2 separate regions of the Homo sapiens genome follow, and region 2 is linked to region 1. The links come from fine-mapping of genetic effects on gene expression. A gene starts in region 1. The other region holds a variant in brackets. All regions are shown on one strand. Distances are between the middles of the regions. Region 1 holds the start of MGP (matrix Gla protein). Region 2 holds the start of LOC124902885 (a long non-coding RNA gene).

The links.
Region 2: its variant is fine-mapped to the expression of MGP in whole blood (TOPMed, PIP 0.91).

What each region holds. Positions count from the first base shown.
Region 1 is chr12:14,878,420-14,894,547 of GRCh38, reverse strand. MGP (matrix Gla protein) reads left to right here and starts at 8,694. Exons shown (of 4, transcript NM_000900.5): 1 at 8,694-8,817; 2 at 10,303-10,335; 3 at 11,501-11,576; 4 at 12,268-13,684. The coding sequence starts at 8,757. The coding sequence ends at 12,409. RefSeq lists an enhancer at 12,607-13,806.
Region 2 is chr12:14,904,606-14,920,733 of GRCh38, reverse strand. It overlaps ERP27 (endoplasmic reticulum protein 27), which reads left to right. Exons shown (of 7, transcript NM_152321.4): 5 at 3,431-3,556; 6 at 5,048-5,245; 7 at 5,952-6,695. The coding sequence ends at 5,999. LOC124902885 (a long non-coding RNA gene) reads right to left here and starts at 10,627. Exons shown (of 2, transcript XR_007063221.1): 1 at 10,341-10,627; 2 at 10,069-10,230. The variant G/C (reference allele first, on the strand shown) is at 7,507.

The DNA.
Region 1 (16,128 bases):
GCACCTACTACATCACAGACACCTGCTGGGTATTTTGCAAAGATTTCCTCATTAAATCTTTACAACAATTTACAAAAGAATTATCACTCACGTTACAGTGAAAAAATGACTTATTGAGGGTCACGTAATTAGTTAGACACTGTGATAATAATAATAATAGCTACTTTCATGGAATATTTACTATATGCCACCACTGGGCCAGCCAGGCCCTCACATGAATTATCTCATTTAATCCTCACTACAACTCTATAAGCTACTTTCCATTATTGCCCATATTTTATTAGATGACGAAAATGAGGATTTGAGAGACAGTAGGGATCATTCAGTGACAAATGGAGTGGGATTCACATGTTCTTTTCCACTCTCTCATTATGGCACCAGAGAATTTAGGATGCATGTGAATTTGAGAAGGATGTCAGCTTAATTCTGTAAGCAATGAGAAGCTGTTGTGTGTATTAATAAAAGATGACTAAGAGCCAGAGGCTAAGCTCAAAGAACTTGCTGTCTGGTAGAGGAGCAAGACAAACGAGCGTTCGTATCAGACTCTCATCCTTCCTAGTCCCTCACCCCAGCCCATATCCATTCCCCTGCCCTCCTATTGCTATCCCAAAACAGAGTAAGACCAAAAATTACATCTTGTTCCCTTCAGCTTATTGTCTCTTCCTTTTGATTCTATTCTTTTTCCCACTGGTTTATGGTTTACCAAAAGACAAAGAACCCCAGTGAAAACCCCTTTTATCCTCTCAACAAAATAAAAGTCTCTTTCAAAATTCCATAAAAGGCATGAAAAAAATTAGCATGGGATTATGAGAAAACAGGAAACACAGAGAGTGATAAATTAGAAGAATTGGAGTCAGAGCAAGGCCCCTGAGATTCAGACAAACTCTGGTTACAGGACCGCTTAAACAAACACCAGCAGGCGGGGTTGAAATAGATTTCCACAGTCAGCCCAGCCAACATTTCACTGCATTTTTTTCCATCAGGGAGAAATCAGATGTGGAAACAATCACTTATTTGACAGCCTGTTCTCTTCTTAGATTGATCAGCAAAGGCATTCCCTGTGATGTTCTCTCTCTCATGTTAACCTGGACATTTTTCCTCTGCGTCCTGTCTAAACTTCCTTTTCTGAATTTCATCCCATTTCCATGGTTTGTAATGACTAGGCGATGGGACAAAGAGGAGTTGCTCAGTTGCTGATCCCTTCCACGAGGAGGAGGGCTTTCTCTCACTGACCAAATCCTGGCTGAAAAGATTGACTTTCTTCTCCTAAGGATTTCAAAGTGTATCAGCATCCAACTCGAATGAATCAAGTTATTTGACTACAACTGGGAAACAACAGCAGACATGGCCTATTGGCAGGCAGTTATTTGAATGAAGCTTTTAAAAGGCATCTTGCTAGTGGTTTGTTGGCTGAGGGATGGACATCCAAACACCAATCAGCCCTAGAAACTCTTGCAAAATTGCATTAAGAACAAAGTGTTCCTTCAAACACTGAATTATATAATTTCTCTATCGTGTTTATTCATTTCAAGGATGAAATAATTTAGAAGCACAAAATTGTACAGGTCTATTCCAGCTCTTCTGTTTAAAAAGGCAAATGGCTTGCTCAACAGTAACGCAGCCATTGGGTGGCAGTGTCAGAACTACACTGAGCATCAGCCAGTTCCACAGTTCCCACTGGACAAGGCCTTGCTGAGTCAATCCCTTCCATGTTTTGCATTCTCTCCTCTGCTTTGGTTTTCAACAATCTATTCCCTCGTTATTGGGAAGAAGTGGAAGTAACACTAGACCAGTGGAGTTGAACCTATTTTTTGAAATAATATTGTGTGTGCATGTACTCCACAGCATTAAAAGTATGTAGGCCATTAAGCTAGGAGCTCGGCAGGTATTGCCTTATTTAATTCATCTAATGGTCCTCTGAGTTAGAGTCCTCTAACACTTAGTGAGCATCTAGTATGTTGCAGACACTTATAATCCCTACCTGTGTCACTGAGGCTCAGGAGCTTAAACAGCGTATCAAATGCCACACACAGAGTAAGCAGTAGAGGCCATGCACAGTGGCTCACATCTGTAATCCCAGCATTTTGGGAGGCCGAGGCAGGCAGATCACTTGAGGCCAGGAGTTTGAGACCAGCCTGGCCAACGTGGTGAAACCCCGTCTCTACTAAAAATAAAAAAAAATTAGCTGGGCATGGTGGCATGAGCCTGTAGTCCCAGCTACTCAGCAGGCTGAAGCAGGAGAATCACTTGAACCTGGGAGGTAGAGGTTGCAAGGAGCTGAGATTGTGCCACTGCACTCCAGCCTTGGCGACAGAGCAAGACTCGATCTCAAAATTTAAAAAAAAAAAAAGAAAAGGAAAAGCAGCAGAGCTAGAAGTCAAATCCAGGCTTTCTTATCCTAAAAACTACATCCTTTGGCCAGCTTCTACAGAGCCTGTCTTTAGAGTCCTATCAAGGTTTTGTAACGATTGTTTGTTAGAGTAGCTACCAAAAGTATGGAGAGAATATCTAGATGAAGTGCAGCTCGGGAATGCTCACTCCCCTCCACCATCTGCTTTTTTGTTGTTGTTATTGTTTTGAGAGAGCGACAGAACAGATGAAATGGGTACGGGCTGGAATATGGAAGGAACATGGTAGATTTGACTCATGCAACTACCAGATATTCTTCTAGTTAATTTATTACCTAAACTTAAAATCACCCTAAAAAAGATTTAAATTTCCATTTCAAGGAAGCACCCTTAGGTTAGACATGGGGTCCATTCAGATGCATACCTCTGACTGAAGGATTGCAAAGACAGCATATTTTCATTTCTCATGTCAACTTTAAAAGTTATCATCGACTAGTTTTAACTTCATTTGGTAACGAATGTTATGTTTACTTAACTTTTAAAAATTATTCTCTGTTGTTTAAAGCTTTACTTCTATCTTCCCTAAAACTACTTCTTTTAACTCATACCAGTGCTATCAAGTTCTTGGGTACTGTGATTTGGTGAATTAAGCTATCTTTCTCCCTACTCCCTTCATGTCTTCACAAGTGGTAAATATAATCCCACTCTGCTTCCATCTCACTCCTAGAGACATCATGTCATTGTTCTTGTATCCCCTCTCCTCACCAATCCTACCTTTAGGATCCTGTTTCTGCCAGTCACCAATAACCCCTGCAATTCTTGCAAGTTACTTGGCTCCATTTCTTGGGGTTGTAAATGTCTTGAATATAAAAAGGAGTGTTTTTACTTTGGTGATTTGGAATAATGAAAGGAGATTACGAGGATATCCCAAAGTGTGGGATGACAGCAGAATAGATATAAAAGGGTGCCTTCTTTTCCAGCTGAGACCATGGTACTGCAGGAGAAATTCCTCGGACTTTGTCTTGATTGCACCTCATCCAGAAAAGGCAGCCAGAGTCTAATGAGTAAATAGCCAGCCTTTAGTCAAGACATCTTCATCTTTAGTCAAGACAGGAGACATAGAACCTGCTCTCTATTTTGCTTTGAGTTGACAGAGCATTCTATAAATTAAGCTGAGATTTCCAGTTTTCTGGGGGTGGGGACGGGGGCGGTGGTCTAAGTAACTATAGAAATTGGCCTTGTGCACTGGGAGACGACATTCTTAATATGTCAGATACACCAAACCAGAGCAAGTGTCAGATGACAGCAAACATCGGCGTTCACAGACTGGATGAGACTTGGTGATTCCTGAAGGAAGCTGAAAGGTTTTGGAAAGTACCATATTTGAGTTGGAGCTTGTTTGGGCAGATGTTTAGTGTGCAGTGTACTGGAGAGAGAAACAGGGGACTTAGGATCCAATATTAAAACTATCCCTCTCTCCATTTTTATAAGTCATTTAACTCACTGGGCTTAAGTGTATGTAGACCTTTAATTTGTATTGCACTATTTTAAAGGATTTTGAGACAATTATCATTTTAAATGTGTATATCTTAATTTTGTGTAATTTTGTCTCTAGCTATGAAATTTGAAATTCAAGGAACCCTGTAAGACGCAATCACAAAATTATTTAAGCAGGTGTCAGAACCTGGAGGGATCTCACATGGTTGTATCATTATTAAAAACACACGATTTGACATCAAACAGTCCTGCGTTTTAATCCTGTCTTTGCCATTTAGTTGTTGTGTGATCTTGGATAAACTATTTTACCTCTTTGAGCTTCCATTTTCTTATATATGAGATGTGGGTCATTATACTTAGCTTATAGGATTATTAAGAGAAGTAAATAAAAAATAAAGAGTGACTATCAGAGCATCTAATATATAGCAAGCATTTGACATATGATAATAGCGCTTGGATAGATGTATAATTTTTATTTGATATTTGCTATCTTATTTAAAAATTGAAGCTTTTCTTAAGAAGGGTGGAGGAAATAATCGATAGGGGAGGAAAAGAAAAATCCCAGCCATTCCCAGCCAAAAGCTCTCCACCTCTCAGACTTCTCCACCTTTATTTTGTTTAATAATCAGGCACCTCCAACTTTCCCTGGAAGTTTCAGCCCATGAGTCCCCAGATGCTCCTCCCATGCCTGAGTTTGACAAACATTTATTCTTACTTAGTTCAACTAAGACAAATTAAGGAAAGGAAAGAAGGATTCTATCTGTGCCTAGGAAGTTATGTCAGTTAAAGAATCTGACACACAGAATCCTCTCAAGGGGCTTCCCTTAAAAGAAAAGAACTAAGAGCATGGCACTGTCCCACGACATTGGCTGGGCTTCTGTCTCCTAGTTCATTGTTCTTTGATGTCCTAGAGAGTGATTTCTGTTTTTGTCTTCAGGGCTGCTTCTTCCTAACTCTTCTTTCATTTGCGTTTTTCCTTTAATGGCAAGGGTAAGGACTTTAGTGCTGCCAGTTTAAAAAAAATTATAAAATCAAAATTCAGTAAATAAAGCTGAATTTCATGGAACAGCAAAAAAGAAAAAGAAATCTGACTGGAGCCAGGAAAATTCCTCAAAGAGACAAAATGCCTAGCCATCTGAAAAAGAGTTAGTTAAAGGATAAGCAAGGACAGAAAGAGAAGGAGGTAGAATTGATAGGGAAATATATTACACTTTCTACCTCTATGCCATTATTTTAGTCACAGAAATACCATGTGAAAGGGATAACTCTTTTGGTATATTCTCTGGCAAATATACTTTTCTGAGAAGCTTCTCCCCACAGTAATTCTCAGAAGCTCTGCCAATGTTCCTCTCCTGCATTCCCTCCCTAAATTCAGAATTATCTGAGCTGGTCACTAGCACCTTTCTTGATGCTTTGGAAACAGAGATGCTCCTGAGTGCCCATAAGAATGGTCAGCCCAGTGAGAAAGCTCATCACTTGGTCTCCTTTAAGGCCAGTTGGCTGCCTAACAATTTTTTAAATAAGAGGAGCCACTATTAAATTTTTGTTCAAAGAGCACACTTGATGCATGAGGACAGGGCCCATATCTGTATTTTTCTCTACTGTATTTCCAGCCTAGAGTTGACAAACAGTAGATGCTCAGTACATTTGTTGGCTAGATAGATAACTTGATGGATGGCTGGCTGGCTGGCTGGCTGGATGGATGGATGGATGGATGGGAGAATTATGAAATCATGAAGCTCCTTCTGGCCCTGACAGGCATGGTCATTCTTCTCTTTTCTGCCTGAGAGTAGGTGGAATAGGAGATCTGTATTACTCCATGGCTTCTCTTGCTTCAGTTCCTACGTTGCCAACCTCACATGAGGAGAATCCTACACATGTTTAAAAACTGGCAATCATATCACTGTCTCATATTTCTGTTATCACTTCTGGGAGTTTCTTCAAATATTCTCTCCTCTGAATAACACTTCTTTTTTGTTAAGGGAAAATGTCTATATAAGTGTCTTTCATAATTATCTAAAATCTAATTAGAATTTAGAGTTTCATGTGGTCTCGTCTTGACAAGATATCCCAATTAAGAAAATGCAAACTAGCTGGCAAAATTAATTTGTTCAAATTTCAATATTTTCTGAAAATTTTCAGACAGTATTCTGCAATCTCAAACAATGCTATTCCTAACCAAAGCAACTTTTATTTCTCTGTTCCCATGTCTCGCTTTTAATATGTCTCACCTTCTACAACTGCCTCCGTTTTTCTCTGTCACTCAGTCTCTACCTAAAACTCACCCAGCAAACCAAATTGGTAAGGCTCTTCTCATTTCCCCTTCTCCGTTTTTTTTTTTTTCCTACTTCCATTCTTTTCTTCTGTCTTCTCTCAGATGAGTCAATCTTGGTCCTTTCTAATGCAAAGCTCCCATCCCTGCTTCATGCGTTAGTCCAAGTCCTCATCATAAAAACATATGACTGGAGTTGGCATTCACAAAGTTGTCTTTGAAATGGGGAGTAAGGTGACAGAGGAGAAAAAGAAGAGCTCTGGATTCTCAGACATGTTAATAATTTTTACATATCATATATAAATGGGATTTTGCAGAGAAGAACCAGAAATAGATGGGAGAGCAATGGACAGGAAAGGCAGATGAGGGACCGAAGAGACACAGCTCCCAAAAGAAAGTTAGCCTTACAAAAACCAAGACGATAAAGAGAAATGCTTAAGTTTAGGGAATCCAGTGGAAGCAGTGATTTAAGGTGAACAAAAGGTGAACCTTAAGTTGAAATGAGAAGTGTAGGATTTTCAAGTTTAGTTTCTGGGAGTGTAAAAATAAAAAAACAATTGTGATGTCAGAGGTTGAAAGATTATAGTTGTCATTTGAACTTGGGGATAAAGGAGACATCTATGACTTGGCTGGAAAAGACAGAGCTAATGTACATTGCAAAGCACATATTTATAGCAGGAAAATGGGAAGATTTCTCTTTAATTCTGGAGATGGAGTGGGGATGGGGAGAGTAGACTACTCATTTTAAGGGTGAAACATTGGAATTCAACTTGTTTGATGTTATATTAATTGGTGGTTAATTACTAAGCTAAGTACGTATAAAACTTTTATCTATGGCTAGCTTGTCCCCCCAAAGTCATGCAATATAGTGAACTGGCTTTCGCACTTTAAATTATTCATTGATCATGTAATGATTCAGATGATTCATCTTCCAAGATGGACACTGAAACTAACACTCATAGTAGGTTGTGGTTTAAAGAGTGGAACAACCGCCAGTCTCATTAGTGGAAATTGTGATGGTTGAATTTATCAAGGATGAACATACACGGTCTTCTTTCTGAGATTTTCTTTAAGATTTTCGCACAGATAATCTATTTCTTAGGTTTTGGAGAGAAAACTTGAATTTTATTGATCCCTCAGAACTCAATCTTTCAGATTTCAAAGGAGCTATTTCTTTTAATGGGGACTCTGTTAATATTTATAAAAGCTCTTCACAGGATGGAGGGTGGGAGGGAAACTCCATCCCAACAAGACAAAAAGAATGAAGCATGAGGCTCCACCTAGTTCATCACTGCTCCTTGAAATACATCAGTATTGAAAGACACATCCACCCCACCCCCAACCCAGCCCTATTGCTGTTCCAGCTCAAGAGTCAGAGGTCCCGAAGCTGTAGCTCTTCTACAATCTGCTGCTCTGTGACTTCAAGTCTGTTGTCTGCAAAGAAAACTATTGGGTTCCCAAGCAAGAGAGGCACATCTGGTAGGACAGATTTTGTGATTGCAAAAGAAGGGGGAAAAAAAGAAAGAAAGAAAAGACCTCTCTATACAAGATAACCAGAGGCATCAAACTGAAATCCTCCTGTGGAAAATAAGCTAGTACTTCTGGGCCTGATGGTGTAGTGAAAACCTGTGCTTGAGGATACATTACAGTGAAAGAGCAAAGTGAATAGTAAGTAGCTATTACTTACCTCCTTAGGGAGGTGTGTTGTTTGTCTGTACATCCCCCACAGCACCTAGCACAGTACCTTGCATCTCACCTGCCACTCACTAAAAAGTCTATCAAGTTAGTTAATTATCGAGACAACGCCCTCAGAAATGAGAGAACAGTACCCTCTTATCCTTGCTGCACTTTCCAGCACTGATACGCTGCCTAAAAGAGGACTAGGGCACAGGTTTGAATTAATGTCACAAAACTGGATGGGCAAGTTACAACGGTGTTGATTAAGGAAACAGAACTCATGGTGCACCGGATATCTCCATCCTGATGAACCCTTGGAAAAATGCCAAAGATGCATATCCCCAGGCAAATGCCTGATTAGTCTGGGATTGATAGATTGGTCTAGGATTCAGCCCTACTGGGAAGATGTCTAAATTATAATCAGTGTAGAAAGCGAAGTTCTCCTAGAAGAAGAGGCAAAGGTTAAAAAGAAGAAAAGAAAAGAAAGTGAAGTCCTTTCTCCCCCAAAACCTCTCATCAATCAATCAGGGTAACAAACAGAACACTAGGGCTCTGTCTGTGGACCAAACCCAAAAGCCCTGCGGTCAGGGCCAGGAGGGTAGATCATGTGTTTGTGGCAACTTCCTCTGTGGGCTTTTGCCCAGGTCTGTCCCCAAGCATACGATGGCCAAAACTTCTGCACCAGAGCAGCATCCTGTGTAACACAGTCAGGTCCAGCAGTTAGGGAAAACTGCCCACTCAGAGTAGATAATATCTGGAAGGAATGACTGTTTGGGAAAAGTTCCAATGCTAGTTCAGTGCCAACCCTTCCCCACCTTCTCCAGCTCTCTCCCACTGGTTCCTCCCCTCTCAACTGCTCTGGTTCTTATAAAAACCTCACAGCCTTCCACTAACATCCCGTAGGAGCCTCTCTCCCTACTGCTGCTACACAAGACCCTGAGACTGACCTGCAGGACGAAACCATGAAGAGCCTGATCCTTCTTGCCATCCTGGCCGCCTTAGCGGTAGTAACTTTGTGTTATGGTGAGAAACTTTTCTCCCATTTCTCTGTGTTTACTTTTCTGCCTCTGACTTTGGCTTACTTCTATTTTTCCTCTCCCTCCTCCTCTTCTTCCCCCTTTCTCTGTTATAATCTTAAAGTACCATTACTTTCACATTTCCCAGTCTCCGCAGAAACTGATCTGTTCTATTAAGTCTTTTTTATATCCTAAATATCCAGAGTCTTATGCAACTTAACAGGCAAACCCGTTCAGTGGTAAGTCTCTGTATATCTAGAAACTCATATTTCAGAAAGAAGATACCAAATTCCCAGCCCCCTGCATCCTCATTTTTAAGGATATTTATTTAGACTTTGGTATCAATGGGTTAAGGGTATTGTTTAAACCACTTGCCTTTGAGAAAATCCATTTTTATGTGAAGTATTAAGTATAGCCCTTTCTAGGGACTGGACAATCTCATGAACTTACTATGTTTGTTCAGTTAATTAATTTTAAAATAAAGTTTTACATCAAAAGAATTTTAGAAAAGAATCATTTTCATAACTCCTGTTGTCAGAAAATAAATTTTGCCTGTTTTCTATATGTCATTAAATATACCTGCATTTGTTCAAAGCTTATAAAAGGAAATCTGAAGCAAAGTTATTTACTTATTTCAGTCTTTTGTTTCAATTACCTAGATATTTTCATTGTTTTAAAATTTAAATTACATTAACAACCATAAAGATTATGCTTCTCACTCTTGTATTCACAAATTTTCTGTATTAGAGGATTTGATTTCTTCACCTCCTTTTTAAGTTTTGAAGAAAATTCACTTGCTGGCAAATATTAATAGAAGCTTCTTATTCCAAAATTTATCTGCTGTGCTCAGGAGAGTGGCAGAAAGAAGAAAACTTCGGCTTTGATATCGTTTCAGTTCTCTCTCTGAACTGGCATCGTGCCCAGGGTGAGCTGTCAGCTGGAGCTAGTGGTTTCTGTGGCTGCCAATTTAACACAGGTTCTTAAGAGGCTTTCGGAACCCTCTTAGAAACCTGCCCTAGTAAGCCCAGCAGAGCAACTGCCCTGTAGTTCTCTTGCCTGGAGAAACCTGGCTGTCTTCTGGATCCTTCTTAATCCTCTTTGACCCTGTTCTCAAACAGGCTCTGAATAAATCAGAGAAGAAGGTTCTCTGGAGACTTCTGTACAGCACTTAAAGTGTCTTATTTTGCTTGTCTGAAGACGTCATAGCCCTTGGGAAATTTTAGCTGAAAATGGCCACTCCCTCCTTCAACATCAGAGAAACTAAAATATAGAGATATCCACAGCAAGGCCAGAGCTAGAGAAAAACCTCATAAATCCTAAATTCCTGAAATTTCTAATAACCACACTGCTAAATATATTCTTCATGTTTTTAGACTCTTTCCTCTTCTTCCATCCCTGTATTTAAACTATCACAGTGTCTAAATTGATAAATAATAACATAATGAATCATGGATAAATATTGATATAATGAATCTTTTTTTTTTAATTTCAGAATCACATGAAAGCATGGAATCTTATGAACTTAGTAAGTGAATATTTAACTTCTTTATTCAAATCCCTTGCATTAAAGAACCTCTTCTTATTTTTAAATAAACAAGATGGAAAGATATATAACAGGGAGGGAAAAGGGGGCCTCTTTTGGAAAACTAAAGTAAATTTTTAAATCTAATGACTATAAAAATTGCCAAAGGAGCAATTTTTTAAGTTTGAAGTAGTGCAATATGGGATTTAAGCTACAGGCGACATATTTAGAAGCCATAAAATCTCATTTGGAAATTTTAAATTGGCACCACGTCAACTGCACAGATGGAAAACGAGGAGTAATGACAAATGGTAAAGCACAGAGCTGGACGCCAAGTCAGCTGGGAGACCACAGGCGCCACGTTAAGCTGAGTGCTGTTTTGGTTTTTTTGTGTTTTTCTTTCTTGTTTTTTTTTTTGAGACAGTGTCTCACTCTGTCGCCCAGGCTAGAGTGCAGTGGTGTGATCTCGGCTCGCCGCAACCTCCACCTCCCAGGTTCAGGCAATTCTCATGCCTCAGCCTCCTGAGTAGCTGGGATTACAGGCCCATGACATCATGCCTGGCTAATTTTTGTATTTTTAGTAGAGATGGGGTTTCACCATGTTGTCCAGGCTGGTCTCGAACTCCTGGCCTCAAGTGATCCACCCACCACAGCCTCCCAAAGTGCCGGGATTACAGGCATGAGCCACCACACCCAGCCAGCTGATTGCTGTTGAATAGCTGGATTTATAAAGACTGAGCATAGGAGGAAATGGCACATCACTCTCATTTTTAATTTATTCATTATTTTTATAGTGTTTAAACTGTTCATGTATCGGCAATCTAGTTATGCTTCATAAATCCTCAGGACAGAGAATTTCTCCTCAAAAGGAATTTAAAATCTACCAAGTAGAAATACAGAAATTAAGAAAGGCAAAGTGATCGTCCAAACTCAAAACCAACAAAGCCTATATGACAAGTCTCTAAGACACATGGATTGATTACTGATTTCATTTGATCAGGAAGTTAATGAAATCTACTTTATACTCTCCTTTAATTTTTGCCAATCTCCGTTTATATGAGTTGCATAAGTTAAGGCACTTTCAAATATATTTGTGTCAAGGAATATTCACGGAAATATTTCCAGCTATGTGTCGCTAAAACTGCATTTATTTATTTTCTGTTCTAAGATCCCTTCATTAACAGGAGAAATGCAAATACCTTCATATCCCCTCAGCAGAGATGGAGAGCTAAAGTCCAAGAGAGGTCAGTAACAAAACTTCATGAGGAGTGGTCATTTTTCCCAGTGTAGATCACAGATCTGAATTGGAGTGGGAAACAGCTTTTTCATCATATACATTATTTCTAATTGTATCTTTAAAATCAAAAAACTTAAAAGCAATATTCAGAAAACAACTGAATTATTAGAAAATTATTTGGGGAAAGATCCGGAAAGGAGAAGGAAGGAGGAGAGAAAGGAGGACAGAAAGAAAACTTCTATTTTCATTAAAAAAAAAAAAAAAATCTCCTGTTCTGCCTTCCCTCCCTGGTTTTTTTTTTGGTTGGTTGGTTGGTTTTTCTGAGACAGAGTCTCACTCTGTTGCCCAGACTGGATTATAGTGGCACTATCTCGTGCCTCAGCCTCCCAAGTAGCTGGGATTACAGGCACGTGCTACCATGTCCAGCTATTTTTGCATTTTTTGTAGAGACGGGGTTTTGTCATGTTGGCCAGGCTAGTCTTGAACTCCTGACCTCAAGTGATCCACCCACCTCAGCCTCCCAAAGTGCTGGGATTACAGGCCTGAGCCACCGCACCCAGCCTCTCCCTGTTCTTTAAATATCTCTTAATATAGGGGGGCATGGAGAGAAAGTCTCTCCAATATTTTCTTCTTCTTTTCCATTTTTGTATTTTTCCACTTTATCCTTCTCAATTTTGGCCTCTTCTTCCACTTTCTAGGATCCGAGAACGCTCTAAGCCTGTCCACGAGCTCAATAGGGAAGCCTGTGATGACTACAGACTTTGCGAACGCTACGCCATGGTTTATGGATACAATGCTGCCTATAATCGCTACTTCAGGAAGCGCCGAGGGACCAAATGAGACTGAGGGAAGAAAAAAAATCTCTTTTTTTCTGGAGGCTGGCACCTGATTTTGTATCCCCCTGTAGCAGCATTACAGAAATACATAGGCTTATATACAATGCTTCTTTCCTGTATATTCTCTTGTCTGGCTGCACCCCTTTTTCCCGCCCCCAGATTGATAAGTAATGAAAGTGCACTGCAGTGAGGGTCAAAGGAGAGTCAACATATGTGATTGTTCCATAATAAACTTCTGGTGTGATACTTTCATCTTGTAAATCTGCTTTCTTTTGGGAAGATATTGAGATATTTAAATCATGGCCCACCTTACCCAAAATAGGAGATTCTGTTCATCTCATATCTAGTATTAATTAGAAAAATAACTACATAAAAAGAAGGAAGCTAAGAAGGCACTCACTCAGCCATAAATTCTCTAAACCCTCTCTACCTTGGAATCCGTGAATGGAATCTGGTATGTTTTTTGCAGGATTTTCCTATTGTAAATTGTGGCAAATACAGGGCTCCCTTCATTTGCTTTTCATCTCTTATGCATCAAAGTCAAAAACATTTCTGAATCAAGATAATCTAGAAGAGAAAAAAGGAGGAAAAGGAAAAGAGAAAGCAGAAGGGACAAATAAAAGCAATTGGCAAAAACTGTCAATAATAGTTTATACACTTAACTATATCAATAATCACATTATATGTAAATAGTCTAAACAATCCAATTATTTTTTACTTCTACTTATGTTATATTTTTACTTCTACATTTGTTAAAGGTTCCACGCTACATTTTTACTATTCTTGCTTTAAATAATTTTAATAATTTCTTTTAAAGTTTAGATAATAAGAAAATATCCCGGGCCAGGCACAGTGGCCACACCTGTAATCTCAGTAGCCATGACCATACCAATGCACTCCAGCCTGTGAAACAGAGTGAGACTCTGTCTCTACAGAAAAATAAAAAAGAAAAGAAAGAAAAGATCTCATATATTTACCCATGTAATTTTCATTTCCTGTTTTCTTCATTCTTCTTTCCATCTGGTGTCACTTCCTTTCTGCCTGACGACTTCCTTTAACGTTTTTTATAGTTCAGGTCTGCAGGATTCTTTAAGTTTTGTATGCTTGTTTTTATTCTTGAAAGATATTTTCACTGTATATTGAATCCCAAGTTGCCACGTTTCTTTTAATTATTTTAAGGTATTCCACTGAATTCTAGCTTGCACAATTTTTCGATATAAAATTTGTTGTAATTCTTACCTTTGTTCCACTGTGTATACTGCATCTTTTATCTCTGGCTGCTTCTAACATTTTTATCTTTATTAGTGCTTTTGACCAAATTGATTCAGACCTATCTTGATTTGATTTTTCTTATTTTTCTTGTTCTTGAGGCTTATTGACCTTCTTGGATTGCATAAAATTAGAAAAATTTTCAGCCATTATTTTTTCAGATACTTTGATCCCTCACTCCTCCTCTCCTTTAGAGGGTCCAATGACATGCACATTTGACCACTTGAAGTAATCCAACTCTCTGATGTTATTTTAATTTTTACAAATTGCTTTTCTCTGTGTGTTTTATTTTTGACACTTTCTATTAATGTGTCATCAGGTTCATTAACCTTTTCTTTGGCAATATCTAATCTACTATTAATTTCATCTAGTGTATTTTTCATGCCAGACATTGTGGTTTTAATCACCAGAAGTTTGATTTGGATGTTTTCATATCTTCCACGCCTCTACTTATCTTTTTAAATGTCTTTGATACATTTAAATTGTTCCAATAACTATTTTAACATAATGTCAGTTATGGGTTGGTTTGATTGGTTGATTATTCTACTTATGAACCACAATTTTCTACTTTTCTGCATTCTTGCTTAATTTTATTTGACGCCAGACATCATTTGATGCCAGACATTTATTTGATGCCAAAATGCAGAAAATTTTATTTTCTGCATTCTTGCTTAATTTTATTTGATGCCAGACTTTTTGTGTACTGGATATTCTTCTATTTCTGTATGTGTTCCTGAGCTCTGCTCTGGGATTCCGTTAAATGATGTGGATAAAATTGATCAGTATTTAATCTAAGGCTAATTATTTCCCCACACTGAGGCAAGACCTTTCTGAGCACTGCGCCCAATGTCCCATGACAATAATCGTAGCCCTGAGTTAACAGCAGCCACTGTTTCCTCTATTCCTCTTGGATGGTAATCTCCCCACACACATATGCCGATCAGTCCAGTGTGTGCACGAGAGTGCCCTCCACTGATATCCAGGGATCCCTCTCACTCTTTCCTTTGCAGTATTTTGCCATGTGAAATATAGTCGCTGTGTTTTTCCAGAACTCTCAACTCCACCTCAACTCAAAATGTCCACTGGACTCCATCTTGGTTCCCTCTCCCTAAGCTATGGCCTAGAAACTCCCTTAAGGCAATAGGCTGGAGAAGTCATAGGACTTACTCTGTTTTCCATCTCATAGCAATCGCCATCTTTAATTGCCTAATGTCCAGGGTCTTGAAAGACATTTTTTCACATGTATTGCCTGTTTCTTTAGTTGTTTCCGAAGGGAAGGTAAATCCCCCTTTCTTAGATGGAGCCTTAGTTCCTTAGACTCCATCTTAGCTAAAAGTCCATTAAAACAGGCAGGGCTATTTAAACGGTGATCCCAGCCTCAGAGTTCCCCAGTAAAATTGGCTCAGACATATACTGCAGTTACATCACAATTCAAATGCTCACTCTGGCTAGCCCTACTTGCCTCACCCCTCTCATGTGTTGTTCCCCAATAAACCACTCACACACAAATCTCTAAATCTTAGAGTCTGCTTCCTAGGGAACCAAATCTGTGACAATCATTCGGGTGGTAAACAGTGAATAGTCAACCAGCATTTTCTAGCTCCAGAATCCTCTCGCTCCAGCTTGTTTTATTCGTTACATAACACTAGTTTTATAGTTTTGGAGTTGTCAAGAGGTTCAGCAATAATCTATTTCAATCCCCTCATTTTTCAGTTGAAGAATTTGAGAGCTTAAAATCTAAGTGACTTAAGTGACTGTCCCAAGGGCAGGTAATTCTATTTTCTTGAGAAATTCAGTTATACTGACCTCATAAAATCTAATTCTTTAAGCCAGTTTCTTAAAGAGTTGTGTACAAATAGCCCATATATTTTTACCAGCCTCCCATTGTGTACAGTTACACTTTCCAAACTGATGAAGCTATTTTTAATGTAGTTTCTACCTCAGTCAAAATTTTATCTACCTACCGTCTCAGCTCTATAATTTCTTTTTTTGATATATCCTTGTTTTTCAGAACTAAGACACATAAAGTAACATATTACAGGTCTTATTCTCTTCCCCTTTGCTCATCTTGGTAAGGTGTTTCTGTAGATTAATTTAGCCTGAGAACCAAAGCGTGTTTCAACATAAGCAGATTACTCTGCCACCACCCATAAAAGCAATTTGCATCTTAGAAGAGTGTCTAAGAATAAGCACTTTGTAGATAGGCCTCCTAGTTTTTAATGCCAGCTCTGCCTCTGAGAATGTGTCAATCTTGGGCAAGTTAAGTAATCTCACTGGGCCTCAACTCCCTTATCTGCAAAATAAGATTATTCTAGTACCTATCTTAGAGTTGCTGTCAACATTAAACAAATTAATATATGTAAAGTGCACAAAACACTGCCTGGCATGTAGTAAGTGCTCAATAGCTGTTAGCTATTTCTATTGTATTGTATTATACTATTACTATGGTCTGGA
Region 2 (16,128 bases), 26 kb before region 1:
TGAACTATCACACTGCTAGTAAGAAAGAGAACCAGAATGCACAGTTAAGGTGACTAACTCAAGGCCAGGTGCAGTGGCTCACAAATGTAATCCCAGCACTGTGGGAGGCCAAAGCATGAGGATCACTCGTGTCCAGGAGTTTGAGACCAGCCTGGGCAACATAGCGAGACCTTGTCTCTACCAAAAACTTTTAAAATTAGCCAGGTATGATGGTGTGTGCCTAAAATAAAATAAGAATAAATGAAAGACAAACAAAAAAATTTTAAATGAAGCTCACTGATCACATATTTGGATGTCACAGGAATGTAAAGTTTCTGTAATTGTTTCTAAACAACCATTTCATTTTCTGTATGTACCTCCTTGCAGACCAGTAACAAACAGTTCCTGGTCTGGCAGCAGCTGCAAACCATGCTTTGACTAGCAAGTGCCTACACCCTCACCATGCCTCAGCCTTCTCTCCTGGTGTGTCTTCCTCTGGTGTTGCATGCTGCATGCAATCTGAGTAAAGGTGGTGCTCCACCTGTCCTGATCACCAAATGGACTTCTAACACTTTCTATAGACTATAACAGTCTACAGAATTATCTTATGTGTCCCATCCTTTATTTTCCCTGACATAGATTACAGAACCTTACAGGGTATTAATTTCTAGTGATCTACATCAGCTCAAAATGCTGTACCTTCTATTCTCCAATACCAGTTCTTTACATGCATGGTATGATTTTTGAGAACTTACAGAGCCCTTTCATCCTCATTTTTTCATTCAATCCTCATATTGATTTTTTTTGAGGTAGAAGAGAGGAAATTATTGTGTCCATTTTATAGAGGAGAACATTCAAGATCCAACTGATAACATTATTCAAAGTCACATCATGAGTAAATAGAAAAGGCATAATTTAAGGGACAAAATGTAACTGATGCATTAGCACATTTTGCCAACTTCCATTTTACAGTAGAGTAAATGGGAGTTCAGAAAATTTAAGTAACTTCTTCAAAGCCCTATGGCTAGTAATTCAAGCTTCAGAGACAGCCTATGTAGTTGCCCTTGCTTTTTTATGACTGGTGCCTGTGACTGAATCCTGTGGTTGTCTATTGCCCTACACTGCCTTCAACAGGAAACACCCCTTTTCTTGTGGACTAAAATCTGGCCTACCTCTCACACCATCTTTATCTCTGTGGAGTTGGTGACTCTATTTCCACTTCTGCTAAGGCTCCAAACACATATGCCCCTGGGGTATTGGCAGTAATAATCAAAAAGGTGTTCTTCTGCATGTGGGGCCAGAAAAGATGATCTTATGGTCCCTGGGCTATGGCCTCCGTGTTGTGGCATTTTGCAAGCTAGCTAAGGCAGGGGCATGCACTAACCTTCCTGGTTTCTTATGCCTGATCTGTCTCTCATTTCGCAGAGCAATGACGTATCTTTTTTAAGTTCCATATTATTAGTGAAGGCAGATTATATCAAGAGAAAATTCAGTAAGAATTTCTTTAAAGAAGCAAGTTCAATCTGTATTGTTACTTTTTTTATTTCCTGAAAGTAATATTTTTCTCATTTGGAGAACTGCCCATTCTACTATAGCTGTTTCTCATCTGCTTCTGGTGCAAAGGTTTGCACCAGTAGCAACTGGGCAGAAAATCCCAGCCATGCACCTGACCTGCCACGCACTTTTAATGCACACACTCAGTACTTGGCGTCAAGGTGTCTGTTAGGATTAAATGAATCCATTCGGCTATGGTCAATCCCTTCTGCCAAGATAACTGTACCTTTTGACATCTTAGCTTTTATTTCTTTACTCTTCCCAGGAATTATCCTCCATCTCAGTGTTAGAATAGTGAATGAATGCTCTAAATTTAAGTAGCAGGATTTAGTAAAACAAGAGTAAATCATGTGTCATCCAATCTCCCAAATGAAAAATCTAAAACTTGATTTTAAACTCCACGGAGAAATCTTTAGGAAAGGACCTACTGGGCCCTCCTTGCCTACATATTGTAGGCAGCCAAAAGAGCTGGAGAATCTTTACAAACTTGTGTAAAAAATCAGGAAGAATTCTACCTAGCTGTGCCCTTCCCCATCCTCCTAAGACTCTGACCAAAGATTTGTTAACCCACCATGTTCTCTCTCTTCCTGTGTACACACTAGTTTTGTAGCAATGCTTTCTGAATTTAGGAGAGGTGAAAAGAGATGAGATTGGTTTGAAGTAGACTCGCAGCATTATTTCAGGACAGTGAAATGAAGGGAACCAGTGCCATGGATTCCCCTCTTTTTCTTCTCCTCTGTCTGACTGGTGGCTGTTCCACTCCTCTAAGTCATTGACAACTTCATGGAAAAATCACCATCTCTAATCAGCAAAACAAGGTCAATGCTTCTGGTCTCCTGAAGAGCTCACCTTCTGCTGACCTTTGGTACATTGGTTCAACCACATTTGAGATCGAGTTTGTTTATATGGGGTTTTGCTATCCACTGTGCATGAGGCAGTCCATCCTGATGATCAAGAGCATGGACTCTGGAGCTAGACCACCTGGTGTGAATCCCTGTCTGCCATTTATTTGACTCTTGGAGAATTAGTCTATCTATGCCTCAATTTCCTCATTTGAAAAACTGGGACCTTGAAGATTAAATTACTTATTCTTTGTTAAGAGTTGGAGACAGTGCCTTCCACGTAATGAACACTCAATAAGTACGAACTACTAATATGTACTCAAACAAAGACTACATTTTAAGTGTCTCTGACTAGTCTTGCAACAAGAGAGGGGGCTGAAATAAAGTGACTAATATGTTACATAGTGTATTAGTTGTCTATTGCTGCAAAACAGATTACTCCAAATCTTAGGAGTTTCAAATAAAAAACATTGATAATCTCATGCAGTTTCTGCAGGTCATCCAATTTGGGGTGGCTAGGGCTAGGTGCTTCTGGTTTGAGGTCTCTTGGGAGGTTGCAGTCATTGGTCAGGGCTGCAGTCATCTGAAGGCTCAACTGGAGCTGGGGATCTGCTTCCAAGATGGCTCCCTCACATGAATAGCAAGTCAATGCTGGCTGTTAGTAGAAGGACTTAGTTCCTGGCCATGCGTTTCTCCTCAGAGGACTGCTTGAGTGCCCTACACTGGGGCTGGTATTCCTCAGAGTGAGAGATAGAGAGAAGAGCAGAAACCATAATGTCTTTTAAGACTTCACCTTGGAAGTCACACTCCATCATTTCTGCAACATTGTCTTGGTTACTCAGTTCTGCCCCATTCAGGGTGGGAAGGAAGGATCTACACAGTTGCATGAAAACGAGATGGTAAGACTTAACTGAGAGCCATCTTGGAAGCTAGTTCCATTTGTGTTACCAGTGGCCAGCTCTCATTTAAGTTTCAATCTACCTATTCACTCCTTCCCAGGTACTAATGCATTCTTTCTCGCTTTCACTCTACTGTAACACATTTCGACTTGCCAGACTGTGATTGGGTTATTCAACAGCGTAATTCAGATTCATCTCCTCCTGATAATGAACAAGGCCTCCCCAGAGTATGAAGAGAACATGCACAGATACCAGAAGGCAGCCAAGCTCTTCCAGGGGAAGGTAAGGCAAGAATGGGAATATCCTATTGCATACACACCTCCAGGACACTAGGAAAAGGGAGATGGGGCTAGGAAGCAGAGATAAATAAGGAAAACAACTATGGTTAGGAGATAGCAAAGCAAGAAGTAGGACATAATAAATCACATTATTTGAAATTAGAGATGTTGTATTTTATCATATTAAAGGCATATGTAATTATATCTTCCTGTAGTGATTAAGTGTGGGTTTTTTCCTGCATTGATTAGTAGAGAGAAAATAGAGATCCAAAGAGACTGAAAGCAAAATCACCTCTAAGTCACCATTTGTTTAATCCTTCCCATAATTTCATAGAGATTTAGACCTCAGGGCTCATTTCTCATATAAAACACCTATCAAGTACCTGGTGCCTGCTCAATATACAATGAATATTTCTTTCTTTCCCTCCCCTCCTTTGTGGAGTTCTGCTTGATATTACTGAAATAGTAAAACTTCAACTACTTCAAGGCTACTGTGCCTAACTAGTGACTGTTCTAATGATGAGAACTGTCTGGTAATAAAATAAGCGCCTTTCTGATGGTTGGTTCTCTAACACTGAAAGTATTTAGTGTTACTGAAAGTAGACAATCATCTGATCAGAATATTATAAAGAAGATTTCTACTTTGGGTTGAAGGTTTGATTTAATAATATAAAATAATCTACATTTATCAAGCACTTACTATAGGCCAAAAGCTGAATAAAAATATTAATGCGTTACCTCATTTAATTTCCCCCACCAAAAGCCCATTTTGCCAATGAGAAAACTGAGTCTCGGAGAGGCTGAGTAATGTGCCCAAACTCACGTAACTAGAGAGTACCAGAGGCAGAATTTAAAACGTGCTCTCTGCTCCTAACCATTAGGCTATACTTCCTTTCTTAGGTAATCACTAAAGTAATTTCCAATTCTATGTTCTTAAAATTAAATCAATCTCGTCAAAGGGATAAAACATCAAAGCAACACAAAATAATAGGAAATTCATTTTTTTTAACTTTTAAGTTCAGGGGTACATGTGAAGGCTTATTACGTAGTTGAACTTGTGTTATGGGACTTCGTTGTACAGATGATTTCATCACCCACACATTAAGCCCAGCACCAAATTGTGATCTTTTCTGCTCCTCCCCCTCCTCCCACCCTCCACCCCCCAAGTAGACCACAGTGTCTGTTGTTCCCTTCTTTGTGTTCAGGAGTTCTCATCATTTAGCTCCCACTTAGAAGTGGGAACATGTGATATTTGGTTTTCTCTTCCTGTGTTAGTTTGCTAAGGATAATAGCCTCCAGCCCCATCCACGTTCCCACAAAAGACATGATTTTGTTCTTTGTTACAGCTGCAATAATTTATTTTAACTCAAGATTTCAATTTCATGGTGCAGACCATAAATTCAATCAGTGTGAGCTGCAACAATTACAAGGTATCTCTTTATCCCTGGACGTCACCTCAGATAGAACTTTTTCTTTCAAACTTCCCCAACTGCAGATTCTCTTTATTCTGGTGGACAGTGGTATGAAAGAAAATGGGAAGGTGATATCATTTTTCAAACTAAAGGAGTCTCAACTGCCAGCTTTGGCAATTTACCAGACTCTAGATGACGAGTGGGATACACTGCCCACAGCAGAAGTTTCCGTAGAGCATGTGCAAAACTTTTGTGATGGATTCCTAAGTGGAAAATTGTTGGTAAGTGTGAGACTGCAGGTAAAGCAAATTGTTTTCTTTCTATGTCCCTTTTATTTCCAGTTGAATAAGAATTCTTTGGGCTCAGAGAGGGAGGAGAGCAAAATGTTGGTTAATGGATACCAAGTGCAGATAGATAGGAGGAATGTCTAGTGTTCTGTAGCACTACAGGGTGGCTGTCATTAAGAACAATGTATTATATATTTTCAAATAGCTAGAAGAGTAGATTTTGAATGTTTCCAACACAAAGAAATGATAAATGTTTGAAGCAATGGATATGCTAATTGTCCTGATTTGATCATTACAAGCTGTATACATGTATAGAATATCACTCTGTACCCCATAAAAACGTAACTATTATGTGTCAATTAAAAACAAAGATAAAAGCAAAAAAATTAAAGTTAAAAAAATTATTTGGGCTCTACTAGATTTGATTAAAAGCAAAAGTCTATGAGGATATGGTGGCCGGAGTCAGGATGCTTGTTAGGATATATCGTGAGACTCAAACTAGAAAAGCATGTTTGGAAAGGCCTTGCATATTCAGAGGCTGAATTTTGGATTTCAGCATTTAGTGTAAAGCATTAATGGGCAACAAATCAAACTTCATATAACAGGGTTCATGAGATAAAAATTAAAGAAGGATTTAGGACTTCCAGGAGTAAACAGCTCAGTTTACTAATCTAAATATCATTGTTATAATGTTTTCCAGAAAGAAAATCGTGAATCAGAAGGAAAGACTCCAAAGGTGGAACTCTGACTTCTCCTTGGAACTACATATGGCCAAGTATCTACTTTATGCAAAGTAAAAAGGCACAACTCAAATCTCAGAGACACTAAACAACAGGATCACTAGGCCTGCCAACCACACACACACGCACGTGCACACACGCACGCACGCGTGCACACACACACGCACACACACACACACACACAGAGCTTCATTTCCTGTCTTAAAATCTCGTTTTCTCTTCTTCCTTCTTTTAAATTTCATATCCTCACTCCCTATCCAATTTCCTTCTTATCGTGCATTCATACTCTGTAAGCCCATCTGTAACACACCTAGATCAAGGCTTTAAGAGACTCACTGTGATGCCTCTATGAAAGAGAGGCATTCCTAGAGAAAGATTGTTCCAATTTGTCATTTAATATCAAGTTTGTATACTGCACATGACTTACACACAACATAGTTCCTGCTCTTTTAAGGTTACCTAAGGGTTGAAACTCTACCTTCTTTCATAAGCACATGTCCGTCTCTGACTCAGGATCAAAAACCAAAGGATGGTTTTAAACACCTTTGTGAAATTGTCTTTTTGCCAGAAGTTAAAGGCTGTCTCCAAGTCCCTGAACTCAGCAGAAATAGACCATGTGAAAACTCCATGCTTGGTTAGCATCTCCAACTCCCTATGTAAATCAACAACCTGCATAATAAATAAAAGGCAATCATGTTATAGGAGAAAGGCTGGCATCTCTTTGCAGGCCAAACCTTTTGTAAATACCCAGCTGCCCAACTAAGCAGCATGTTCCTCCCTCTGCAGTGCCCACTGTTTAGTGTCAGACCATAAGCCACTAACATGTTATTGTTCACTCTGTGGGTGGGATGGGTGGAAAATAGAGACCATCCTGCATGAGGATTGGAACAAATGTGGCAACTGAGCTAGGAAGCAAATTAGGTGAAAGGTTGGGGAGCAGATAGGAGAAGCAGGGCACTGGCAGTGGGACGGGCTGAGGCTGACTAAGCCTTGGATTATTGCAGGTAAGGTGTGTGATCCAGCTCCTGTGTGGTGAAAGGAGAGCTTGGCTGAGTGACTCTGGCCCATAGGCTGTTACTATCAACACACAGATGCTGCATTGTTCCCAGGAGGCCCTTGGCTCAGGAGGAAAGTGCCTAAGTGCTGAAGAGCTGAAAAACCACAGATGTACCTAAGGACTGGTCCAAGTGAGGAACAGGGAGTGAAAGGCTCAGTTGTTCTTTCTGTGGGGAAAACTCCACAGCCCCTGGGCGGGAGTCAGCTGCTGGCAACCACACTGTGAAAGCCCCAGTGTAAGGCGTGCCCTTCAGCAACGAGACCAAGGTATTCTGTGGAGGTCACACAGTCCAACCCAGGGCTGCAGAAAACCACCCAAACAGCTTCTCGCTTGAGGCTGAAAAATATTCCTAAGATAGGCACATCCCAGAAGGCTCCTTTGGATCCTGTAAACGAGAGCTCTTGACATTTACGGTCAGGAAATTCTTCCTGATATCCAGCTGAGGTCCTCTGGCCATG[G/C]AAGCTATTTCTTCTTGCCCACCCTTTGTGGAAATTCTTAACAGCTTCCAGATGCCCTCCTCAAACCATGCCTTTAACCACTTGCTGGCTGCACTGAAGCCCCTTTATCTAGCCATCTTTCCCCCATACTCACAATCTAACTCTCATCATTTGGTTTTTATCATTTGATTTACTTCATTGTTTTTCTCGCCTCATTCTTTCCCAACTTTTCCTCTTTCTTGCTTAAAATAGTTGGAACCCAAACTATAGTAGGACCCATGAGCTACATTTTGTTTGATATTGTGCTAATTTTTCAATTATTTTTCTTGAAGTGTTCCCCTCAAAAACAATAATCAAAATGGACCACATGGGTCTTAACATCTTTACAATGCATTTTTCTACTTGCTGACATTCAATAACAATTTTATTATATTATTTTATATACTTATTTGTATGTGTATAATATTGAAGTGAATCCTTCCTTCTCATCTTGTAGTTCTTCATAACTGCCAGTTACTTTTGCCGGTCTTCTTCATAGGCAGTCCTGTTCTTTGTAGCTCCGGGGGTCTCATAACCAAAGAATGGGACTTCAGAAAGAAGAAATTTGTAAAGATTCACCCATTTATTAAAGATCAGATCTTTAGAAGGGCACAGTGACTCATGCCTATAATCCCAGCACTTTGGGAGGCCAAGGCGGGCAGATCACAAGGTCAGGAGTTCAAGACCAGCCTGACCCACATGGCGAAACCCTGTCTCTCCTTAAAAAAAAAAAACAAGAAATACAAAAAAAAAAAAAAAAATTGGCCGGGCATGGTGGTGCAGGCTTGTAATCCCAGCTACTCAGCAGGCTGAGGCAGGAGAATCGATTAAACCTGGGAGGTGGAGGTTGCAGTGAGCCGAGATCCTGGATCCTGCCATTGCACTCCAGCCTGGGCAACAGAGAGAGACTCTGTCTCAAAAAAAAAAAAAAAAATCAGATCTTATAAACATCTGCAATTTTTTCTCTGTCTTGAGAATCTTTTGCCAGGTCTACATCCATTTCCCCAGGGCTATGTTATTGTTGAGATGTCTGGATACATCTCAGCTATTTTTCATTGTGGAATCATTCAATGGCCCTCACTGACAAGACTGCCATACTTTTTCTTTAGAGTACGAAGGAAGTGATAATATTATACAATATAAATTTGAAAAAGATGTTAACATATTTGGAAGACTATGATGGAAGGAGCGGGACTGAAGCAGGATTCAAAGGAATGACTGGAAAGTTTGGGTTTGAGTCTCACCTATTCTATGTATGTGCCTCTATGACACTGGAAAAATTACTTTTATCTTTGAACTTTAGTTTATTAAGGTTAATGTAATAATTATTAGGATTGCTTGAGATCCCAGGGTGATAATCCCTATTAAGTAAAGTTTGGCTATTACTTTTCTCTTAAGTTAATACTACATTGCCTTCTCTGGGAAATAATCATTTCTCTAATTGTTAGAACTTACGGGAAGGCAGAGACTTCATTCAGGCTGTTTCTTTGAGGCTGAAAAAGTATTTGAGATAACAGATTTTAAATGTAGCTTTTATTGTTTTCTAGGTATGGGGTGGCCAACAGATCAAAAAAGATAGCCATTTGAAAGATAGTTTATTACTCACAGTTCCCAAGAGGAGGCAGCATGCCATGCTGTGCAGGGCCACATAGGGAAGTATCAGGGTCAGTCAGAAGGCAGAAGGAGTAAAGGTGAAATGACAAGGGCCTTTATTATGGTCTCCATGGGAAGAAATGGGAAAGGGTTAGGAGGGTAAGGAGGCTTAGGATTGGCTGGTTTCGATAATTTCAGCAGGCTCTGGGGCATAGGAGCTTTCCCTTGTTGCCTGGAACCTGGCCCTGGGTGGAGTGGCTGGGTGGTAGCCCAGCATGTGAGAGCCCCATGAGAGTCCAGTAAGGAGATAGTTGGGGTATGGACTCTGGACTGGTTGGTTTGCATATAAAAGCTATACTAGCAGGTGAGTTTATTACTATCTCCAGGAATTGGCTATCTCTAGGAGGGAGGGGCAATCTCTCCAAGGTAAGCAAAGTCCCAGATGTCAAAGCATTAGAAATACATAGTAAAACAGCCCCAACGTCCACTTGTCAGGGGATTCCTGTCCTTCCTCGCCTATTGGGTCATGCCAGAAGGGAAGGCTGCATTCATCAGGCCCATCTTAATACACATATACCTTGAGCAGTCAGGGGTAGGATGAGGGCTATGTAGCGTATTGAGAGAGAGTAGTTTATTTATATACTCATTCACTCATTTAAATATTCATTAAACAACTATGAGTGTGGCAGGCAAAGCTGCCCTCTGAGAGAGAGAGAGCAATTGGTGATGATTGGATGATGAGCTATAGAACAGAGACTTTTCAGTTGTAGTGACAACAGGCAACATGGAAGCCACCAGAATGGTTCTGAGTCACGGACAGAAAGCAGCCAAACAGGGAAAGCAATACACAAAGAAAGAGGTATGTTGTGGAGGGGACTGGGCAGGAGGCTGGCCGTGGGCTGAGGGGGCCCCAGAGCTGGGGGAGGAGGAGCCACAAAGGAAACAGTCCACAACCATCATAAGCTAACTTTATTTCACAATTGAATTTGGAACCAGTCCTATTTATTTCACCTTTCTGAAAATATCTGGTTTTCTAAACAGAGAAAAGTAAGACTGGAAGTGGGATGGATCTGACTCATGGCTCCTAATTGCAGAAACCTTACATGGCGAGACCTAGAGAATTGGAAAAGGAGAAAGTTAAACACGAACACCTTTTGAGTGTTGAACTTTTGGAAAAAAGGTACTCTGGAAATCAAAGAAGCAAGTGAATTTTAAAATCATACCTCTGTAAATTTGAAGGTGATTCACCCTCCTTCGAATCACTTCTAAGATAGGTCTCTCTTTTCTTTCTGTTCTGGAACAAGAAGTCATTGTTTTTGTGGCCTTGACAATGAAATATCTGAGTCATACTAGGGGTGGAAGGATATGTGTGAGTAAAGGATGAGGGTGTTAAGCCACTTCTATAGTTTATGAAAAGTTGTGTGGAATCCAGGCTTTAATGTTTAATTATCCAAACAATTTCACTAAATCTTAATAGCAGGATTTAATTTCTACATTAGCCCACTGGTCTTAAAATGGTAATATGGTGTTAGCATACACTTAAGGAAGAAAAAATAGAGCACGTTTGACATAATTCAAGCTGTGGTGAAGTAACAATTTTAAAATTGTTAATTTTAAAATTAACATTGTATTACGGGTCATGTTTTCCAAGAAGACTCTGCAACTAAATTCCATTGCAAGGAGTTTATTGGGGAGCGTCTGGGGATCTGTGAAGAAATAAAGAAAGTAGGGTTCCACAGAAATATAAGTTAGGCTGCGATGCAGTCACAACAAAGGCTTAGATTATCCCATGTGGATATTTGGTGCTGAGGTTTCCTTGTAGAGTACCCCAAATTGGAGAATGAGACCCAGGCCTCTATACCCCAACATTGAACATCTGATGTTGCAAGCTGCACATAGGAAAGGTGCATGCTCGTGGGCAAGATGGCTCATTTGAGCAGAGGGAGATTTCTGGGCTGGTTGGTGGGTGGGATTCATCTAAGAGCTCTTAGCTGTCAACATACTCAGAGCTGGGAGAAGCTAATGACTTTGGGGTGATCTGTGCGGCTCACCACAGCATCCACTACACATGTCTAGAACTGTATCTCCTTTTATACCATCATAGTTATTGCACCAATGCTATGCAAAAGAATAAGGAAAGGATGGATTCATTTTATCAAATAAAAGATGTAGCACCCTCATTAAGTTTGTGCTGGGGGAGAACACGTCTATGTTGTCTTCACTAAAAGGTAATCCTGCCGGGGCAGTAGAAGTATTCACTTTACAATCACTCACTCATTCATTCCCTCACCAAGCATTTCTTGAGTGCCTACTAAGAGATAAAGATGTATCAGGAAATAGATCTGGCCAGGTGCAGTGGTTCACAACAGTAATCCTAACATTTTGGGAGGCTTAGGTGGAAGGATCACTTGAGGCCAAGAGTTCAAGACTAGCCTGAACAATATAGTGAGACCCTGTCTCTACAAAAAATAAAAAATAACCAGGGTGTCGTGGCATGCACCTGTAGTCCCAGCTACTCAGAAGGCTAAGGTGGGAGGGTTCCTTGAGCCCAGGAGGTCGAGGAAATAGATCAGACTCACGAAGCCTAATGTTGACTTCACATCTTCTCCTCTCCAGCCATCTAGTTCCCTAGTGTAAGATAAACATGAAGTTCACTGGGAACTTGAGGAATGGCCTGAATTTCTAATGTACTTAGTAGATAGTCAAATATTTTAATGATAATAATAATGATGATGATGTATACGCAATAAGAATAAGGCAAAGACTTGTATAGTAACTTGGGAGTGAGCAAAAAACGATGTTAGATTTAACTCCAAATTCTGACCTTAATGCTTATTTATGCCAGCTAAATTTCATGGAGGTGATCTTATCTGTTGTTAAATATCTCTTGTCTTTATGTCCAGAGTTGGTAGTACCTTACCTTCCTGTCTTCATTTCCTGCTCCTCACTCCTGCCACATCCTCCTTTTTGCTAATAATTGCCCACCCTGTGGTCCATCCTTTACTACTTTCCTACCAGTTCATGGCCTCTATCTCTACTTCTCCCTCCATCTCCATCTCTTCAAATAATGTTGCTCTAGGTCACTACATGGGACAAAAGTTCAGGCAGGTTGAGTGATAATATGAGGGCTGAGCACAAAGGGGAATGATCAGGGAAGGAAGTCTCTGAAAGGAGGTGGATACATATTGAACAGTACGTTGAAAGTTCTGGCCCTGTCCTGCAATCTCTACCTGGTACACCATGACCATCAGAATCTTATTGGTTCCAAAGGGCACTCTTTTGAGACCTACATACCCTTTACTCCACCACACTTTGGCAAACACGTCACAGAATGAAAATGGGGAAGAATGACTACTTGTGACCTAACTCCTCAGACCTGCAGCCTCTCTTGGATTGACTCATTCTCTTGACTCCATGCTGTTTTTTCCCATAACACCACTAATAATATACCAAGGCTGAGGAAGGGAAGAGGCTAAGTCAGCCAACAAGTGGTAATGTTAGGTGTTCATGGGAGGGCAGGGTGGTTTGTGGTAGGATATTTACATGATTGTGAAATACAAGAATGGTGGTGGGTGATAATGTGATGTTGACTTGTAAGGTGAGTGCTAATGGGTCAGAGAATCACTGCTCTGTTGAAGCCAGCTGATGTTTAGGAAAGAATGGTAGCCAATATAGTTAAGGCTGGAGATAATTATGCAAGCCAGACAAAGTGTTAAAATGGCAATTTACTAAAGGCTATCTACAGTTTGAGAACTGTCTTATGACCCTCTGGTTCCTCCATTTTCTCATTTTCCAATTTTCTAAGTTGCAAAATATTCAAGTTTCTCAAGGTTTCCTCAAGAAGATTCACCATTTCTGTCTGTGTGATTCTAATTACAACTTTGTATCTTAACATAGCCATTTCTGGAAAGCACAGGTCACAAAACACAATTTCTACATGCCTCTCAAAATGTCTGATTTTAAGTTCAATGTTATCAAATTCTAAGCAGAGATGGAAATTTTAGGAATGAACTTAAAAGGACTTCGTCACTTGATAACTAACGAATGAATGAGGAAAGCTGTGATAACCATCAATCAGGCTCTTAAAAGAAATGTATTTTGAAGAGGCCATTATTAGTTATGATTCTTAGTCATCAAAAACAGAATAGAACCCAAACCACAGCAAAGGCTATTTTGTTCATAGAACTAATATTAATTTCTCATCCTCCTCTACAAATTTCTACGTTTCTGTAAAAGACACACCCCTTAAATAAAGATACTAAAAAATCCTTTGAGATAGAAGGTTTTATTTTATTTTTACTATAGAGAGATTGAGCCTCTAAGATCTGAACAAAGTGGTCACAGTTGTATGAAAGGGAAGAAATCTCAAGGGAATGGAGAAATCTCCTAAGGATAAAGTCACTTTTCCAAGCAGCCATTGTCTTCACCAGTTATGGTGCTCAGCACTCAAAGGACTGTTAGTGTTTGGTTTAGTTGAAACATCTAGTCTTTTGCAGTCTGCCATTGGAAAATGACTGTACATTGGAAGAGTCAAGGAAGGAGTATCATTCATCATGAAGGGGCCTGTGAAAGAAGATGTCTCTTTGGGCATGAAGAGTTAAATTTTAAAACAATGAGTCTTAGAAATGAAATGACTGTTCTGGTTCCAAATGTTGTACATCTCCAAAATTAGCCCAACATGTTGAAGTAAATTAACTAGAAGCACTTTTTGTGAAAATGAACATAGTATTTAGTATTAATTTACTGTACAACTTCACTACATCTCAGTATTCATTTACTGTACAACTTTCCATTGTACATTTCGGGATTCATTTACTGTTACAACTTCTCTAATTCCTATTAATGGAGGGGATTGGGGGGAGATCATGGCCCACTGTAAAGAAAATTAGAGGAGGGATATTTGGGTTCTAATCCTGACCTCCCTGTGAAACTCAGTATGCCATTTTGGGAATATCACTGTATCTCGTTTTCTCCACAGGTGAAATAGAGTTCAAATTAATTTTCTTTTCTTTTTTTTTTTTTTTTTTTTTACAGTTTTTTTCGTGAGATAGGGTCTCACTCTGTCACCCAAGGTGGAGTGCAGTGGTATGATCATAGCTGTAACCTTGAACTCCTGGGCTCAAGCAATCCTCCTGCTTCAGCCTCCTGAGTAGCTGGGACAATAGGCACTTGCCATCACATCCAGCTCAAATTAACTTTCTGTCTCCTTATAAGTATACTGTAGGGATTAAGCGAGATGAGGAATGGAAAGCATTCTGAAATGTAAAAATACACATTGACTTTGGCCTGGACTCAGACATTCCTTAAACGTTGATTAAGTACACACCTACCTGCATCTAAATGCTGAAGCACTACTGAAGGCACCCTAAAATGGCTGAGAAGGAGAGGGAAGAAGCCAGATAATCTCCAAACACAGAGTCTACCAATTACTAAAGAGTTTACTGTGGGCCGGGCACCATGGCTCATGCCTGTAATCCCAGCACTCTAGGAGGCCGAGGCGGGGGGATCACAAGGTCAGGAGTTCGAGACCAGCCTGGCCAATATGGTGAAACCCTGTCTCTACTAAAAGTATAAAAATTAGCTGGGTGTGGTGGTGGGTGCCTGTAGTCCCAGCTACTTGGGAGACTGAGGCAGGAGAATCACTTGAACCCAGGAGGTGGAGTTTGCAGTGAGCCAAGATCGTGCCACTGCACTCTAGCCTGAGTGACAGAGCGAGACTCCTTTTCAAAAAAAAAAAAAAAAAAGAGTTGGCTGTGAATCTATGCTCAACTGTGTGCAAATTGAATTGTTGCCACATTTATGTTCCCAACCGACAGAAGCCAAAATTAAATCTCCCCATTTGTAGGTACTGTCTGGTAATTTAGTGATACATTGCTTTAATCTATGGCTGTGAATGCAGAGGCAAAAACATCTAACTTCTCTGAGACTCAGTTTTCTCCACACAGTTATGAAGAAAATGCCATAAGGGTCCTTCCTAGCTCTAATCTCTTGAGTTTTGAAAACTGAAGGAAAAGGAGGTCAGAATTGATAGACTAACTAGTTCATGTCCCAGGCACCAGGCCAGACATTTTGCCTCTCTATTGTCTCTTCATAATGAAAATAACTTCAGTTCAGTTAAGGCCAGTGCAGCCTTAATCTACTGCTGGTTTGTAAATCAATCACTCACCCCAACTCAAGAGCAGCCGATTCTATTTCTGTATGACTTTCTGTGCCAAAACTCAACCCCCAGTTTGTTTGGTTTTAATAAATGTATTCTGTTGTTACGGACATTGTGTAAAATGGAAAAAACAAGTCTAGACTGGTTTTAGTTCAGGAAGTTAGGGCAGGGTCCCTTTATTAAAAATAAACATCCTCCTGCTTGCTTCCTTTTCACTCTTTTCTCACAAATCTGTTCCCAAAAGCCCTTGGAATCCGGGACTCCAACATGCAATGATTGCCCCAGATCTCTGTACTACACCTGACCACTTTCTGAAATATTTGAAGCCGAGGATACAGGAAGTTCTTAAAGGTAACAATACAGGTTGTATGTGACACAAAATTAATGATCTGATAACTACCCTGATAGGATCTTTTGGCTTCCTATAACGAAAGTTGGCACAATTATCCTAGCGAATGAGACACATTTTTAGTCTGAATCTTGCATTCCTTGTTTTTTGGCACTCACTGCCTTTCTAATTAAAGATGGTGGCCTGTAACACTTCCTGTCCCGTCGAAACAGGAAAAGTTCCCTTGTCCCCCTCGCAGGGTGTGCGATGCAGATGTGGCTCGCTTCTTCATTGTCCCGCTGCTCAGACCTCTAGGGGAGCATGCAGATGGGCAGGTTGTTGGGCTCCGACCCCATGACAGTGTCTAGGGGTGAATGTTTACAGCTCCTGAAGCCCCAGTGGGTGTGTGTTACAGGGTGCTCTTTTAGTTTAGCCATCCGTAGTCGGCTTGCGTAAGCTCAGTTAGACCCTTTATCTTCTGCAAAGACGGAGGGCTTTCTGTACCCTGGGTTCTTGCCTTGATGTA